5 linked regions of the Homo sapiens genome follow. The protein of the gene in region 1 purifies or fractionates together with the protein of each later gene. This does not show direct contact. Each region holds a gene or a part of one and is shown in the gene's direction. Other genes may lie near its edges.

Region 1 (3,518 bases):
TTGAAAATGGTACATCACAAACATATGTAACATCATTGGCTGCTCTTAATAAATCATAAAACTAATTTTTTTCATCCTCATTTACTCATTATCCAAAGAATTTGGTTGAAAATTTTCTATTAAATTTCTAATTTATTGAGTGCCAAAAGTTGTCTTAGGAATCATTACAAGATTTTGCATTTTAATGTTTTTAACAAGTACAATATGTTCAAAATCCACTCATTTTATTATTGGGAAGTTTTGGGGTTTTTTTGTGGGGGGTGGACAGAGTCTCGCTCAGTCCCCCAGGCTGGAGTGCAGTGGTGTGATCTCGGCTCACTTCAACCTCTGTCTCCCAGGTTCAAGCGATTCTCATGTCTCAGCCTCCCCCAAGTAGTTGGGATTACAGGTGCCCACCACCACGCCTGGCTAATTTTTGTATTTTTAGTAGAGACCGGGTGTTACCATGTTGACCAGGCTAGTCTCAAACTCCTGACCTCAGGTAATCTATCCGCCTCGGCCTCCCAAAGTGCTGGGATTACAGGTGTGAGCCACCACACCCAGCCTTTTGGGAAGATTTTTAACACGTCAGAAAATTCTGTTTCTTTGTTTAAGTACAGATGTGAGAACTGTATAGGTGACACACTTGAACTGATGGTGACAACAAAGAAACATTTCCAGGTGCCTTCTTTAAAAATGCTATCTCAGCCTGTAATCCCAGCACTTTGGGAGGCTGAGGCGGGTGGATCACAAGGTCAGGAGATCGAGACCATCCTGGCAAACACAGTGAAACCCGTCTCTACTAAAAATACAAAAAAATTAGCCAGGAGTGGTGGCAGGCGTCTGTAGTCCCAGCTACTCGGGAGGCTGAGGCAGGAGAATGGCATGCACCCGGGGGGCGGAGCTTGCAGTGAGCAGAGATCCCGCCACTGCACTCCAGCCTGGGTGACAGAGCAAGACTCTGTCTCAAAAAAAAAAAAAAAAAAAAAATGGTATCTCAGTATCATGAAGAGTAGTTACTTTATTGGTCGTTGTTAAAATGTCACCGTTGCCATTACCAATTAAAATGTTTTCCGGCTGGGCGCGGTGACTCACACCTGTAATCCCAGCACTTTGGGAGGCCAAGGTGGGTGGATCATCTGAGGTCAGGAGTTCGAGACCAGCCTGGCCAACATGATGAAACCCCATCTCTACTAAAAATACAAAAATTAGCTGGGCATGGTGGCACGTGCCTGTAGTCCCAGCTACTCAGGAGTCTGAGGCAGGAGAATCGCTTGAACCCAGGAGGTGGAGGTTGCAGTGAGCTGAGATGGCGCCACTGCACTCCAGCCTGGGTGACAGAGCAAGACTCTGTCTCCAAAAAATAAAAATAATAAAATAAAAAGTTTTGGCTCATTTCTCATTCTGATCTCAATCATTTTCACTCCATAACTTGATTGCCAGCAAGCTCATAATTAGGAGGAAGAGTAGCAGCCTGCCGTTTTCTTGGTCACTTGCACGTATAATAAGATCTTCAGCCTCTCTTTCTTTGAGGGAATCTTTTTGGAACAATGTATCCATATTGTGAGGATTGATTTAATAAGATGGGATGGTATAATCCACAAGTCCACATAGGCAGCCACTCCCATACTGCAGGAGGTCACATTGCGCTGATGGAACCTGTGGTCCCCATCAGGGCTTCCCTGGGGGCACTCCCACTCTTTCTTCACGATGCGTCTCTTAGACCCGAGACCATCTGTCATGGGAGCTGAATGAAGGCTCCAAGACAATCTCTACAGTAAATATTTGTACATTTCTTAATTTTTAATTAGAAATGAATATTAATGTAGTTACATTGTTTTTCCACCTTTCTACTGTGCTTTGGTGATCTTGGCTCTAACTAATAGTATTGGGTCATTTAATTTAATTTTATTTATTTATTTATTTTTTGAGACAGAGTCTCGCTCCTGCTGCACAGGCTGGAGTGCAATGATGCAGTCTCGGCTCACTGCAACCTCCGCCTCCTGGGTTCAAGCGATTCTCCTGCCTCAGCCTCCCAAGTAGCTGGGATTACTGGTGCCCACCACCACACCCAGCTAATTTTTGTATTTTTGGTAGAGACGGGGTTTCGTTATGTTGGCCAGGCTGGTCTCAAACTCCTGATCTCAGGTGATCCACCAGCCTTGGCCTCCCAAAGTGCTGGGATTACAGGTGTGAGCCACTGTGCCTGGCCTGGTATTGGGTCATTTTAGAGAACAGGGCATAGCAACAGCAAGCCAGGGAGCTGATGAAAGCAGAATGATACTTCGGCATCACCCCAGTGTCTTTGCTGCTCTCTTCGTAGACGTACCGTGAGCCCGTGTCAGACTACCAGGTCCTGCGGGAGAAGGCTGCATCCCAGAGGCGCGATGTGGAGCGGGCACTTACCCGTTTCATGGCCAAGACAGGCGAGACTCAGAGTCTTTTCAAAGATGACGTCAGCACATTTCCATGTGAGAGTTGCCCCACTGTGTGGACCCTGTCTTATTTGAAACACTCACATTATCTTTTCTTTCTCTCAGCATGGTAGGAAGAAACAAATAAGCTTTTGTCCTTCCCTTGGGTACAGCTTGCCTCTCAGATTTCTGGCTCCCTTCCCCAGGTCTTAAGAGTCTGTCCTTAACTGACGACTCCAAAACAGTAATGGTCTCTGTTGGGACTGGCTGCTTGAGGTCCATAGAGTTACCTTGAGGGTAGCCTAGGCCTAGGCATCAGAGACACTTGGTGGCAGCCCAGGTAGTAGAAGAACATTGGCATCAGGGGCCAGTTGCCCATCGTGATGTTCCCTCGTAGGTCCCACCTCATTTAACTTGGCATCTCAGCACTATTTGGCCATGTTGACCAAGCTACTTCATTTCCAAAGACCTCAGTTTTTACAAATGTGAGTGAGGGAGGTTGGTTTGGGTGATTCATTCATTCAGCAAGCTCCTGTGGAACGCCCGCTGTGTGCCTGGCTCTGGAATAACAGCAGCTGCCGGTTGTTAAGTGCCAGATACTGTGCTCATCATTTCCCATACATTATCTCATTAAATCCTCTTGTGAGCCTCTGAGTTGGGAACTGATATATCACTACCTTCATAGGAACCCTTCAATGAGGCACAAGAGAAGAGAAATGAAGTCACTTCCTCAAGGAACATGGCTAGTAGACATCATTCAAACCTAGCTCTTACTGCAGGACCCCACATCTGACCCACAGCAAAAATAATTCTGGAGTTTTTGTGGGTTTTTTTGAGACAGAGTCTTGCTTTGTCATCCAGCCTGGAATACAGTGGCGCAATCTCTGCTCACTGCAACCTCCGCCTCCCGGGTTCCAGCGATTCTTCTGCTTCAGCAAGTAGCTGGGACTACAGGCAGGAGCCACCACACCCAGCTAATTTTTTGTATTTTTAGTAGAGACGGGGTTTCACCCAGTTGGCCAGGTTGGTCTTGAACTCCTGAGCTCAAGTGATCTGCCTGCCTCAGCCTCCCAAAGTGCTGGGATTATAGGCATGAGCCACCACACCCAGCCAATTCTAGAGTAT
Region 2 (3,518 bases), on another chromosome or scaffold:
TCTCCCCCCTTATCCTTGAGGGATTGTTCCAAGACCCCCAGTTAAATTTACAACCTTTAAAGTTAAATTTATAAACTTTCTAAATTATAAGGTTTAATTTATAAATTAGGCACGGCAAGAAATTAACAATAATTAATTAACAATTACAACAACATACTGTAATAAAATATATGTGAGTGTGATCTCTCAAAGTATCTTACTGTACTGTACTCATCTATTTTTGGATCGCAGTTGACCACAAGTAGCTGAAACTGCAGATAAGGGGGGACTACTATATATGTAACGTTTTGGGGAGGAGGGAAAGAGTATTCAGTGTGTTCATCAGATTTTCAAAGAACACCGTCAGCTAAACAGTTAGGGTCCACAAATCTAAGTCGTCTTCAAGGAAAAGCAGTTAAGGTAAAAGCTCAAGAAAGCGACAAAACTTAGTGATGAATATGTGTATGCAATCCAGAACATAAATGTAAATTCAAATGAAATTGTACCTTTACTTCATAGGATACACACACACACACACACACACACACACACACACACACAGATTGGAATAAGAATTCTGTCATAGCACAGTTTACTAATGTGTATGTCTAGATTTCATATCTTCTGAAACCTAACCACACACAATAAGCAACTAACGTAAAATACTGGCCTATTAGGGAAGTGATTCCTGACCTTGAACATAGGCCTTTGTTTAATATGTTGCATGATGAATCCAGTGCAGTTTCCCATGACTAAATTGAAATTCTAGGTTGTTAAAATACAACAGAACTTCTTCAACCTTGTACTAGATATGTTTAATCTTTATCTATACATAGATCAGAACATCACATTATATCCCGTACATATACACAATTATTGGCAGGGTACAATGGCTCACACCTGTAATCCCAGCACTTTGGGAGACCGAGGCGGGAGGATCACTTGAGGCCAGGAGTTCGAGACCAGCCTGGCCAACGTGGTGAAACCCCGTCTCTACTGAAAATACAAAAATTAGCCAGGTTTGGTGGTACACGCCTATAATCCCGGCTACTTGGGAACCTGAGGCACGAGAATCACTTGAACTCAGGAGGCGGAGGTTGCAGTGAGCCAAGATCACGCCAGCTTGGACGACAGAGCGAGACACTGTCTCAAAAAAATAGTAATTTAAAAATAAATACACAATTATTATTTGCCAATTAAAAATAAAGATTTTTTAAAATTTAATTCAACTCATTGCAGTATAAGTACCTATGTTTCTTCTATGATATAGTTGCACTTCATGCTATTGAAATTGGTATTAGAATTACATTCAGCTTTGTTGTATACTTTTTATCATATGTTTCAGATTCTGGGTAATTCATAGCTTGGTTTTGGGGGGGCTTTCTTCTCTGTTTACAGTTCCTGCAACAACTGCAGTTCAAAATGTTCTGATTAATCCTTCAATGATTGGGCCCAAAAATATTCTTATTACCACCAACATGGTTTCGTCACAGAACACAGCCAATGAAGCAAACCCACTGAAGAGAAAACATGAAGATGATGATGACAATGATATTATGTAAGGAATATAGTCTAGTCTAGATGCATTTCAAAAGGAAAGTTGGTTTTGAGCCCAGTATACTGAACTAGAATATTCTAGATCTTGTTTTACCTTAAAAGACTGAAATGTAGCTGCAGTATTTTTCGTCAGTTAAAACTGTTAGATCTCTTTAGTAAACATACAAATGTGTTTTTCAGTAGGCTTCAATTACAAACAGTTAAGTACTTGTTTCTTAATAGTTTCATTAATGTTGAGTCCTAATATGGCAATTCTGTTTTTGAGACACTTTTCTGCCTTCTATCACTGATAGTAGCATTTAAGTTTCAGATTCTACAGCCTAGTCAGCAGATTTATCTTTGACAGCATAATTTCTGATCTACATTTAAATACTACTTTATTTTATAAGGTAATATAGTTACTTACTGTCACTAGCTAATTTTTTTTTTTTTACCAAATCTCTCAATATAGGAAACATTTTTTGGAAAGGATGGATTTAGAGGAGAGATTCTAAATCCATTTTGGATGTATTTGTTTCTTTGACTTCCTTAACTTCCAAACTCAACTCCCTTTCTAGATCCCATTCATTTTCTGCACCTCCCCCATAGGCTTGTTTCTCTCCATTGCTATTAAATGTAGAAGGCCATACCTGGAATTTTAAAAATATTATTCCTGGTAATACAGCTCAGTGTCATTTTCCTATTTTTAAAACATGCTCTACATGCCTAATGTTTTGTGATTCACTTTAACCTGATGGTTTGCATTTGCTGTTTTTCACTCTTATGTCAGAGCAGTTGGGTTTTACCCCTTAGTTTTTATGCCTGTTAAGCTTTACTGTGCTTTTGACAGGTAGTTTTGGGTCAGTTATATTCAGTTTTAGTATTGTATTCCAAGTTGATAACTCTTCCATGTTTCACATTTCTAAATTTAACAGAGATGCTGTAGCTTAAAACATGTTTTGATAAGTAATTACACTGGACCTAGGCAAAACCACTGAAGAACAAGTGTTCCTTTTTACCACATACATATTATGTTTTGATCACTGCTGCTTGAGCCCCGCTATTGGTATAATTCAGATCATTTTAGCTTGTTGCTGAGGATGTCACATATAAGACAGGATCAAACCTGAAAGACACTAATGGTTCATCCTCTATAAGGCCAACAAAGAAAACAAATTAATGTGATGTAACTTGCATTTATGTGCACTCTGCATAGGTTTCCCAATAATACTGTAATGTTGCTGAACACCTTTCCCTGTTTTCCATTTATACACATATTAAAGTCATATTGGGAAAGATGGCAAAGCTTTTGAGAATATAAACACACCTGTTTTGTTTTTCTTAAGTTCAACATACTTTTGTAGAATTTGTAAAATAAATGTTCGTATCATAATTGAGAATTTATAGCCAAGGATCCTCAAAACAGAAGTTTCATCTTAGGATAGTGTTTGATATATCTAAGAAAGTCCAGTAACAGAGAAGAAATGTCTCAAATGTCTCGTATCAGTTTTAGTGTTTTTCAGTATTAGGGAAAGGTAATATAAAAACAGGTAAAATGTATAAAAATAGACCTGATCAACATCATAGGAGATAAATATTCATTATATAGCATAGGATATTATTACTTGAATGTTCTCAGGGAGGCAGCAAGTCAGAAGGCCTAGGTTCTAGTCCTAGCTCCATCATTTACCAACTGTGTGACCTTACTTCACCTCTTAGCCTTGTTCTCCTCACTAGCAGTAGGAAAGTAACACCTACCCTGCCTACCTCACAGGGCTGTTGTGAGGGTTCAATTGGTATATGTGAAAATTCTTTCAGAATTGTAAAATGCTATATGACTGTAAGGAATTATTGCATTTGTTCCAAGGTTAATAAAAATTTGAGCTTATCAGTGTTTTCATTTTTTAGGATTCAAGGGAGATGAACAAAGCCCAGTAATTCTGATGGCCAAAGACCAGTAAGATTTGTTTAATGGTTATATATCAGAAAATCACTTGCTTTTA
Region 3 (4,225 bases), on another chromosome or scaffold:
ATCCATCCCATCCGCTGACGGAAGTTCATCATTCTCCATGCTCTGTGCCTTCAAATTAAAAAAGAAAATACAATTAGGGTCTAGTAATGCTGTCACGGCAACTACTCCAAATGTACTTGCTTTATCTCCAAGAATTCTAGGCCGGGCGCGGTGGCTCGCGCCTGTAATCCCAGCACTTTGGGAGGCTGAGGCGGGTGGATCACGAGGTCAGGTGATAGAGACCATCCTGGCTAACATGGTGAAATCCCGTCTCTACTAAAAATACAAAAAAAATAGCCGGGCGTGGTGGCGGGCACCTGTAGTCCCAGCTACTCGGGAGGCTGAGGCAGGAGAATGGCGTGAACCCAGGAGGCAGAGCTTGCAGAGAGCCGAGATCACGCCACTGCACTCCAGCCTGGGCGACAGAGCGAGACTCTGTCTAATTAAAAAAAAAAAAAAAGAATTCTAAAATATCCCACTAACACACTTAAGATTTAAAATAATTAAATTAAACACCTATTAAGAAATGTAAAACTTACAGGTTGTTTTGTGTAATACTTACAATCAAGTAAAACAACACACACAAAAAAACAAAAAACCATTGATTTCAGTATATACTGAGTTCTGCTTTTTAACGGGAATCCCTCAGAATAAATCACTGCATCCTACTTAAACAGGTCCATAATACCCGCCCTCCAGAAACTGGAATTAAACTAGTTTCTCACAGCACATTTCACTTTGACAGGTGAAACACTTTCTGGCATAACAGTACTGCTTCAGACGTGAACGCGGGGTGCTACAAGTCAAGCCCCCAAGTTAAGACAGTAACTCCTAAGCACTTACAATGGTCCCGAAAATCTTCCTGTTCCCACGGCAAGCGTTAAAGAGTCACTCAGCTCTGAATAATCGGGTGGCTTTGGCATTTCAGAGAAAGCCAACATAAAATAAATCCCCTGGGTCACCCGGCTAGGAGAAAGGTGAGCGCCGCCAGCCTGGAGCACCAGCTACTAGTGATTAAGAACGGCGTGACTGCGGCGGGTCACGCGCGGCCCGGCCCCCGTCGCCGCCGCCGGAGACCCGCTCTGAGAACCTGACCCGGCAGGGAGGCGTCCCCGCCACTTGGGCCTCCGGGCGGCCGGCCCCGCCCCCTGCCGCGCTGCAGCGCCGGCACGCCGCGACCAAGGCTGCGCAGGCGGCGCCAGGCCCGGGCCTCGCCGCCTTGCAGCGCCGCGAGCCCAGCGCCCGTCAGCGGTCGCCGGCGGAGCCTGCTTGCAAAGCTGAGGTCCCGGATCTCACCTTCCTGTCCCGTGGTGGCCAGCCCGCCCGCCGTCCCGGATGCCGCCGCAGTCGGAGCTTCCGGCTCGGGCCGGAAGCGCGCGCGCCCCGCCCCCGAGGCCCGCCCCTCATGACGTCAGATCGCCCCCGCCCGCCGCGCAGCTTCCCCGAGCGAGACCAAAACAGGTGGAATCCGGGCTGGAGCCGGAGCTCCGGCGGCGCGGGTGGCGGCACGTCCCTCCAGGTGGGTGGCTCTCTGGGTCTGGCGACTCAGCGCTCCTCAGCCTTGCCCCCTGGTGCCCGCTCGCGACTGTCATCGCCCCATCACTTCTCGTTGCAGACAGTACCACAGGCACCTGGAGTACCGGCATCGGTCGCTGTGGCCCCCGAGTGTCCGTCAGAGCCTAGGGGAGCCTGCCCTCCCGCGCCTCGTCGGGGCCCGGCCAGGCACCTTGGCCGCCGGCGCACGGACGCGGGCACGAGCACTAGATCACGGTGAGTGGAAGCGGGCCCGACGCGGCCCTGCAGGCCCGACATCCGCCAGGCACCAGGGCTGGGAGGGGTGAGGGGCGCGCGCCGCAGTGCGGCTGCCCTGGCGTCGCCGCTGGGGGCAGGGCGCGCGGGGCTTGGGGCCTGCACGCTTGCCCTGGACGTTGGCACCTTTAGCTAACCTGTCTGCTCTGTCTTGCAGGCTGCTGGACCTCGGCACGTTGACAAGATTTCTCTGGGGTACCGCGGAGGATTACTTTGAATTTCGGTGGTCGCCTGTGGTCTGGCATATTTAGAACTTAAGTCTATTATTTCGGGCACCATGACTTTGAGGCTTTTAGAAGACTGGTGCAGGGGGATGGACATGAACCCTCGGAAAGCGCTATTGATTGCCGGCATCTCCCAGAGCTGCAGTGTGGCAGAAATCGAGGAGGCTCTGCAGGCTGGTTTAGCTCCCTTGGGGGAGTACAGACTGCTTGGAAGGATGTTCAGGAGGGATGAGAACAGGAAAGTAGCCTTAGTAGGGCTTACTGCGGAGACTAGTCACGCCCTGGTCCCTAAGGAGATACCGGGAAAAGGGGGTATCTGGAGAGTGATCTTTAAGCCCCCTGACCCAGATAATACATTTTTAAGCAGATTAAATGAATTTTTAGCGGGAGAGGGCATGACAGTGGGTGAGTTGAGCAGAGCTCTTGGACATGAAAATGGCTCCTTAGACCCAGAGCAGGGCATGATCCCGGAAATGTGGGCCCCTATGTTGGCACAGGCATTAGAGGCTCTTCAGCCTGCCCTGCAATGCTTGAAGTATAAAAAGCTGAGAGTGTTCTCGGGCAGGGAGTCTCCAGAACCAGGAGAAGAAGAATTTGGACGCTGGATGTTTCATACTACTCAGATGATAAAGGCGTGGCAGGTGCCAGATGTAGAGAAGAGAAGGCGATTGCTAGAGAGCCTTCGAGGCCCAGCACTTGATGTTATTCGTGTCCTCAAGATAAACAATCCTTTAATTACTGTCGATGAATGTCTGCAGGCTCTTGAGGAGGTATTTGGGGTTACAGATAATCCTAGGGAGTTGCAGGTCAAATATCTAACCACTTACCAGAAGGATGAGGAAAAGTTGTCGGCTTATGTACTAAGGCTGGAGCCTTTGTTACAGAAGCTGGTACAGAGAGGAGCAATTGAGAGAGATGCTGTGAATCAGGCCCGCCTAGACCAAGTCATTGCTGGGGCAGTCCACAAAACAATTCGCAGAGAGCTTAATCTGCCAGAGGATGGCCCAGCCCCTGGTTTCTTGCAGTTATTGGTACTAATAAAGGATTATGAGGCAGCTGAGGAGGAGGAGGCCCTTCTCCAGGCAATATTGGAAGGTAATTTCACCTGAGTCTCAGGGAACCACGAAGGGATATGGCAATGAGTAGAGCATGAAGGTAGAACAGTCTATATACTCTTGTGACACATACAATCCCTACCTTGTGCTGCCAAGTAACTCATTTTTGTGCAATTCTCAGTATAAGCCCTTTGTCGTTTCTGTGCCTATTTAAAGTCTCCTAAAGGTGTAATTGACTAGGAAGGATGTAGTTCTACACTGCCATTTACCTATTTAAATTCATCCTTGTGAATATCTTTGTTGTTGTTGTTGAGACAGAGTCTCGCTCTGTCACCCAGGCTGGAGTGCAGTGGCGTGATCTTGGCTCACTGCATCCTCCGCCTTCCAGGTTTAAGCTATTCTCCTGCCTCAGTTGCCCGAGTAGCTGGGACTACAGGCATGTGCCACCACGCCCAGCTAAGTTTTGCATTATCAGTAGAGACGGGGTTTCACCATGTTGGCCAGGCTAGTTTCGAACTCCTGACCTCAAGTGATCCACCTGCTTCGGCCTCTGAAAGTGCTGGGATTACAGGCGTGAGACACTGCGCCCAGCCTCATCCCTGTGAATTTCTTATTGTACACAAGTTCTTTCACTATCTGTGTGCAGTGCTCTGAGGGGACAGACAAGGCTTGGGTGTATATGCCAACCAGATCTCATTGAAGTATCAGCTTGTTTGGTACTAGGTGCAAGTGTAGCATGTCACATGTGACCATGTTGGATCATTGACAATTTTTAGGTATGTACTGACCTACATTTATGATGAAGATCCTGAGCGGAGGTTAAGATATTAAGTTATTTTCCATATGAATCAGAATTATATTGATTCTGTGCAATCAAAACAAAAGGCAGAATAGAATGCTGAGATTGGTTAAGTTTGCAATGACCATCTTGAACCACAGATTTCTGCTATGTGTCATCAAAACATCTAGTTCTGAGTAACATTTTCACGATTGTTATAAAATTATAGGTGTGAACTTCTAAAATAAAGGAATGCTAATAAAATGACTTTGTCTGTTTTGTTTATATCACGGTTCCAAGAGAGATTTCATTTGAATAAAGAGTTCCCAAAGCATGAATCTGCAAACCACTGAACCTACACAGACTTAGTTCCTTGGACT
Region 4 (3,518 bases), on another chromosome or scaffold:
TAATCCCAAAACTTTGGGAGGCAGAGGCAGGTGGGCCAGTTGAGGCCAGGAGTTTGAGACCAGCCTGGGCAACGTAGGAAGAGAGACCCCATCTCTACAAAAAATACAAAAATTAGCCCGGTGTGGTAGCGCATGCCTGTAGTCCCAGCTACTCAGGTGGCTGAGGTGGGAGGATTGCTTGGGTCCAGGAGGTCGAGGTTGCAGTGAGCCTTGATTGAGCCACTGCACTCCAGCCTGGGTGACAGAGCGAGACCTTGTCTGGAAAAAAAAGCTCATGTCACCATCCTATTATGTTATATGCCCTCTTTCAAAAAAATCTCTTTCATATATCCTCTCATCTTTGTGTAAAGAAAATGTTTTTCTAAGTATTATGTGATGCAATACCAATCAAATAAAATTGTTAATTCTGAAGATACAGTGATTTTTTTTTAAGATTGGCTGCTCCTTTTCCATTTCTGTGTTTTTTCACTGAGATATAATAGGGTTATTTAAGAGTATAAAGACATTTGCTATTGAATGTCATCAGTTAAATCTAGACTGTTTGACTATGTTTTCTAAATGGTGCCAGCACAAATGCCTATATGAGGTGCTTGGATGATTATTGAGTAAATACGAGTACTTCTGTTCTGGCTTTAGACTGGGGACTCCACTGTGAGACCACTTACACCAAGGATGGATTTTGGACATACATTACTCAGATTGCCACGTGTTCACCTTGGATGTTTTGGATGTTCCTGAACAGTGTTTTCCACTTCATGTGGGTGGCTGTATTACTCATGTGTCAGATGTACCAGGTATGTGCAAAGGCATTCTTTTTAGTGCACTAAGTGAAAACTCTTCCATCCTTGCATAAAAGATAATAATATATTCTCTTCCTAACCACTCCTGCTCTTCAAATATTCATTTTATTTTTCAATTTAGTTTTCCTTTCTACCTCACTCTTTTGCCCCTTCCTCTTCTCATATTGTGAACTTTTGAATTTTAGTACTTATCTCAACAGAAATTTTAATCTGTTATTCCTGACTTAAATACATCCAGTTGAGTATGTGTGAGCTCAGATTGATGATGACATTAATTTTGTGTTTTTAATGGTATTTTTATTCACAAATACTAATATTTATTCAAAAGCCTTTTTTTAATTTTTAAAAGCTCATTCTCAGAGAGGCTGATAGGGAGGTTGTCTGTGCAGGAATAGCGCCTGTCCATGCACAGTGTCAAGTAACCTGTCTTTAAATATTTTCCACATTTAACTGGCTACTTTTCACAGTCAAATGATACCACGTAAACTAGTTCTGATGATCTCCTGATGGAAAACCAAAAACAGACTTCATTGTTTTTATCTTTATCCTAGTTTTCTTCAAATTAATTTTTTTATATTAAGTATTTAGAAAGAATAATGGTTTGTGCAGCCTGGCATGGTGGCTCACACCTGTAATCCCAGCACTTGGAAGCCGAGGTGGGCGGATCACTTGAGCCCAGGAGTTTGAGATCAGCCTGGGCAACATGGTTAAACCCTATCTCTAAAAAAAAAAAAAAAAAAAAAAACCCAACAAAAAAAAGAAAATTAGCCGGGCATGGTGCATGCGCCTGTAATCCCAGCTGCTGGTGGGGTGGGGGTTTTGGGGTGGGGGGAGGTGGCGGGGGTGGAATCACTTGAGCCCACCCAAGAGGGAGCTGAGAATTCGCCATTGCATTTTAGCCTGGGTGACAGGGCAAGGTCCTGTCTCAAAAAAAAAAAAAAAAAACAAGAATAATGGTTTGCTTTTTCTTTCCTCTTAGATATCATGTTTAGGTATTACTACAAATGAAAGAATGAATGCCAGGAGATACAAGCACTTTAAAGTCACAACAACGTCTATTGAAAGCCCATTCAAGTATGTACATATTTATAAATTTAATATTTTACCTGGTCATAAAAATTTTCTTACTAACCAGACTCTTTTACTTAGTGATATGTAAAATAGCTTTTAAACCTTTTTAAGATTTCTGTAGAAATAGCATCAGTTCACCATAATAACAACAAAACAGAATTCATCACATTAACTGTATATAATAAAGTTGTGATATCTCCTTATATTTTTTTCTTTTTAATTTTAAATTTGTATTCAGTCTGGTGCTTAGAAATAGTAGGGTCCTAAGTATATGAAATATTTAAAACTTTGAGTTTTACTGAAGTTATTACCAACTCTTCAGCTTTTGTGGTGCTGTCAATTATGGCATACTTCTGGAAAGCAAGCAGACCTTTAAATAAAAACAGAGTTAGTTGGGTAGTTTTGAGAATTCTCCCATAGGTACAAAAATTATATAAGGCACAAAACTGACTGCTTTTCTTTTCTTTTTTTTAGACAGAGTCTTGCTCTGTCACCCAGGCTGGAGTGCAGTGGCATGATCTCGGCTCACTGCTACCTCCACCTCCTGGGTTTAAGCACTTCTCTGCCTCAGCCTCCTGAGTAGCTGGGATTACAGGCATGCACCACGCCCAGCTAGTTTTTGTATTTTTAGTAGAGATGGGGTTTCACCATCTTGGCCAGGCTGGTCCTGAACTCCTGACCTCATGATCCACCCGCCTCGGCCTCCCAAAGTGCTAGGATTACTTACCGACGTGAACCACTGGTGCGCACCTGGCCAAAACTGACTGCTTTTCTAAAGGTGTTACTGGAGTACTAAAATTTCATGAACTTATCCTTGACATTTCTTTTTTAAGTTGTTATCCTTAGGTTCACTGCCAGATTCATGCTATTTATAATTATTTTGTCTTTTACTTTTTTTCTGTTTTAGAGATAGTTTGTCTCCTGCCAAAGAGCCACTAATTAAAGGTTTTTATCAAAAATTACATATGGAGCCAGGCATGTTGGTGCATGTCTGTAGTCCTAGCTACTTGGGAGGCTGAGGTGAGAGGATTGCTTGAGCCCAGAGTTCGAGGCCAGGCCGGGCAACATAGTTAAGACCTCATCTCTAAAAATAAAAATAAAAATGCATATAACACAGAAAGTATATGCACATTTGAATAAATTTAAAATATAATTGTGTAAGTCTTTAAATTGGCAAAAGAAAAAATCATTGTTGGCAGAGCAGTGGAGAAACATGAAGGCATATATATTTTATAGAGTTATGAATTGGTTCCTTCTTGCAAGTAACCTGAGTTTTTAAGTTTAGAAAAAAATATATTTAACACGAAAATTATATTGAATTCATGTATTAAATCATTTGTACTGACTGACGTGTTTTCTTTTTGGGGTGCTGTTTTTAGCCATGGATGTGTAAGAAATATTATAGACTTCTTTGAATTTCGATGCTGTGGCCTCTTTCGTCCTGTTATCGTGGACTGGACCAGGCAGTATACAATAGAATATGACCAAATATCAGGATCTGGGTACCAGCTGGTGTAGCGACATCTTATCCTATGAAGCATATTGCTGAGTGGTGCCTGAAAATTGTGTCTGTCCGTGTCTTTCTCACACTCGAATCCACATCCTTTGAACAAGAGCATGCTATGTGTAGGGCTAATGGTGAATTTT
Region 5 (3,126 bases), on another chromosome or scaffold:
TTTCCCCTAGAATATAGTACTCCCTTTTACTCTAAAAAATATCCCAGTTTGGACAATAAAATACATAATTACTCTAGTTATATTATTTGCTTTACTTCTAAAAATGTAAGAAATTGAATTTTTTTAAAGAAAAATGTTGGTTCCTGCCTTGATCTAAGTCTCATCCAAAGGAAATAAATAGTCACTAGTTTTTTATCTTACAACTCAGGACATTTGTCTTTGGTTATTAATGGAAATTAGTATGTGATTACTTTCATAGTTATGCCACAAATCACATTGAAGAAGGAATCATTCCGACCTCTGTTCCAGGACAAGAGCTAGAACAATCCATTTCTTGTCCTTTGATTTGAGAGTCACAGTCAGGGTGGCTTCTGCCACCCTTAGTAACTCAGAGCAGAGGCCAGCCCCCTCCTTCCCTCACTTTCTTTTGCTGAGTCCTTTGCCCACCTGTCAAGGTGGCAGGCACTGTGCTGGGTACAGGAGGACAGTCAGACATGTCCCTTCTTAGCTATAGTCGAGCTGTCTGGGAAACAGGATGAAAAACAGGAGGGTTATTTTCTTGTGCCCTCTTTGTCAGCTGATCCCCTCTTCTGCTACCAGCTATTTGGCCAGCAAGCCGTTTTTAGTCCCCACTTTGCCCATTTTTCTGTTTTGGTTCATCGTTTCTTAAAAGCCATGTTATAAAACATGGTAGTTTGAATCCTGTTGCTAATTTTAAACTTTCCTCTAAAATGTACTGAATTTTGACAAAAATTTGAAAATATCCTCAGCTAACTAGAATAAAAAGGATCATAAAACAATGATTTTAAAACTGAAATCTCTAGAAACTCAACATCCAAGTCAGCCGCATTTCTTCATTCAGAGTGTGTGTGTCACACCTGCCAAGGTGCTGCGTACTCTGCTAACCGAGCTAGAGTAGTGAGCAAAGCCATTTTCTCTGATCACAAGATTTTACATTTTTCTGGGATTTTGACCTGCAAAGTAGTCTCGTAAGAGCATTTGAGAGACTTACTTGGAACTGCCTTCAGAATCTATAGAGCCTTTTTTCTCTTTTTCCTCTAAAATGAAAAGAGCTTCATTTTATGATTATAACAAAAGTGACACTGTAAGCAGTTAGAACATTAAGAAGTATAAATAAAAAGTAAAAATCATCTACAACCCTACCATACTCAGAAGGAGAAAAGAACTGTCATGTATGTATACACACATACCTATGTAATTTTAATATAAATAGAATTATGTTCTACATGCTGTTTTATTTCCTCAACAGTAAATTATGGACATGTCTGAAATGTGAAATAAATTTCAAAATAAGGCTTCAGAAAGTGTAGTAAGTAATCTCTGCATTATTAAAAATAAGCAGGGTAGGGCTGGTACTTGGCTCGCTTAGCATTTGAATGTCCAACTTGGTGTTATCACTGTATCTTCCCTCCATTTGTCTTTGTGATTAGCATGTAAAATGGTATTCATAAAGATCACAACCCTTGAATATCAGATGAAGAGAAAACTTGACTCCAACATCTTACCACAACTCTGGTTTCTTCCTGCAGAATTCATTTTCAGAGGAAAATGATGAATCATCCCTGTCTGTGAACCACTGTGCTTTCCTTGAGGGTGGCATTGTAGGTTGACACCAGCAAAGACTCAGAGTGACTTGAGCATTGGAGATCCTTCTACTTGGCTGCTGTATTCATGCATTATGTTGGTTTGAGAATAGCTAGTGTATTGATCCAAGTAGTCAAAGTGTCTTAAAAGGACACCTATTTGTCCTTTTGAGCCCCAGCTGAGTGAATACTGATAGTGGACTAGAAAAGCATAGTCAAGAAAAGTGACCCACCTTGTTACTTGACCAGCAGTCTAGCTGAGAGATCTGATTTTATGTTCGTAACTTTCTGTAAAGAAAGACACAAGGACTTTTCAAAGACAGTTTATATCTTTCCAAGGCAGGAAGCTTTGCATTTGCAATCTTAGTGTTGTGTCCCTTTCTGATTTTCAAATACATCACACCTGCCTTCCTGTTTTGGGAGCAAAGATGTAATTTCAATTCCCCTTGCTACCGTCCTTATTTAAATTATTTCCATTCTAAGAGATTTTTGTTATTTTTTTAAATGTAATCTGAGCACTTTTTTGTATTCTAAAAGATAGATGATATCAGATAAATATGTTGTACATTTGATTAAAATTATTTAGATAAATATTACTATGTTGACTTTTAAATAGCTTTATCCTATTTTTCATTCATTTTGCAAATATTTGTTGTGTGTAGTTTCTTAACGTGTCAGAATCTATTATGTAAAAGAACCTTTCCAGATTTCTGAACAGTATATGCTTTGATTTTATAGGCTTTATATTATTTCAGTATGAATAAAGATAAGGAATATGAAACAGTTAACTAAAATGTATCTGTCGTTGCTAACTTGAAAAATGAAGTAGAAACAGTTGGAAAATGTTTGAATTAGAAGTTATTCAAGTGCACACTCTTTTCTAAAAGAAAGCCAATGACTATAAGGCAAAAGAAGTTTGACTGCATGTGGTATTTTTTGCTCTTGTATATGCTTTTTGAACAAGCTATTTGATAAAGCCTGAATGGAAAAAATAAAGCTGTTTCTATCTGCAGTGGCTCTTGGTGGTCATTACTTAAAAGACATATGTTTTCATCTTTAAATTCCTGAACACATTTCACCTGCTGTGAATATGTAGAAAACAGAGGTAAAACATTGGCTATATGAGTCATAAAATTTAATTTTCACTAAATGGAGTTCCAGACCATGTGGTTATCTAAATCAAAGTACGGTGGATTCCTTTCTCAGAGAGTAAAGTAAATCCCATTTTAAGCCAGAAGTCTGGATTTTCACAAGATAAATTAGGGAATAGACTTTTATAACCCAAAGGGATTCAAAATAGGACTTTATCAAATTCAAATATAATTTATCTTAGAACGTTTACAGAGAAATTTTAAAAAATATAAAGTGTGCTTTAATTGTTCATAATAGTCTGTGGTATATTTATGCAATACATTTACTAGTGTTTTATCTCTTTACAGTAAAGAGGGTCCTGGTAGGTTGGTGATAAAATGAATCCTATTTCCAAGTGATTTAAATATTAGTTACAATTCCCACTGTCATT

The links.
Region 2: the proteins of TAF8 (region 1) and TAF9B purify together in Homo sapiens (affinity purification with mass spectrometry; 4 studies listed by BioGRID and IntAct, with this or other methods). This does not show direct contact.
Region 3: the proteins of TAF8 (region 1) and MOAP1 purify together in Homo sapiens (co-immunoprecipitation; one large-scale study listed by IntAct). This does not show direct contact.
Region 4: the proteins of TAF8 (region 1) and ZDHHC17 purify together in Homo sapiens (affinity purification with mass spectrometry; 3 studies listed by BioGRID and IntAct, with this or other methods). This does not show direct contact.
Region 5: the proteins of TAF8 (region 1) and ATE1 purify together in Homo sapiens (co-immunoprecipitation; one large-scale study listed by IntAct). This does not show direct contact.

The regions. Positions count from the first base shown.
Region 1 is NC_000006.12:42,064,010-42,067,527, forward strand, and holds part of TAF8 (transcription initiation factor TFIID subunit 8), read left to right. Parts: intron 1-2,302; coding exon 2,303-2,450; intron 2,451-3,518. UniProt on the Homo sapiens protein: The TFIID basal transcription factor complex plays a major role in the initiation of RNA polymerase II (Pol II)-dependent transcription.
Region 2 is NC_000023.11:78,129,633-78,133,150, reverse strand, and holds the end of TAF9B (transcription initiation factor TFIID subunit 9B), read left to right. Parts: intron 1-1,377; coding exon 1,378-1,541; 3' UTR 1,542-3,403; downstream 3,404-3,518. UniProt on the Homo sapiens protein: Essential for cell viability. TAF9 and TAF9B are involved in transcriptional activation as well as repression of distinct but overlapping sets of genes. May have a role in gene regulation associated with apoptosis.
Region 3 is NC_000014.9:93,182,083-93,186,307, reverse strand, and holds MOAP1 (modulator of apoptosis 1), read left to right. Parts: upstream 1-1,410; 5' UTR 1,411-1,498; intron 1,499-1,594; 5' UTR 1,595-1,749; intron 1,750-1,945; 5' UTR 1,946-2,065; coding exon 2,066-3,121; 3' UTR 3,122-4,109; downstream 4,110-4,225. Other genes in the region: LYSET (lysosomal enzyme trafficking factor), read right to left, coding at 1-48, 823-902.
Region 4 is NC_000012.12:76,847,597-76,851,114, forward strand, and holds part of ZDHHC17 (palmitoyltransferase ZDHHC17), read left to right. Parts: intron 1-636; coding exon 637-794; intron 795-1,779; coding exon 1,780-1,874; intron 1,875-3,250; coding exon 3,251-3,389; 3' UTR 3,390-3,518. UniProt on the Homo sapiens protein: Palmitoyltransferase that catalyzes the addition of palmitate onto various protein substrates and is involved in a variety of cellular processes.
Region 5 is NC_000010.11:121,739,914-121,743,039, reverse strand, and holds the end of ATE1 (arginyl-tRNA--protein transferase 1), read left to right. Parts: 3' UTR 1-2,616; downstream 2,617-3,126. UniProt on the Homo sapiens protein: Involved in the post-translational conjugation of arginine to the N-terminal aspartate or glutamate of a protein. This arginylation is required for degradation of the protein via the ubiquitin pathway. Does not arginylate cysteine residues.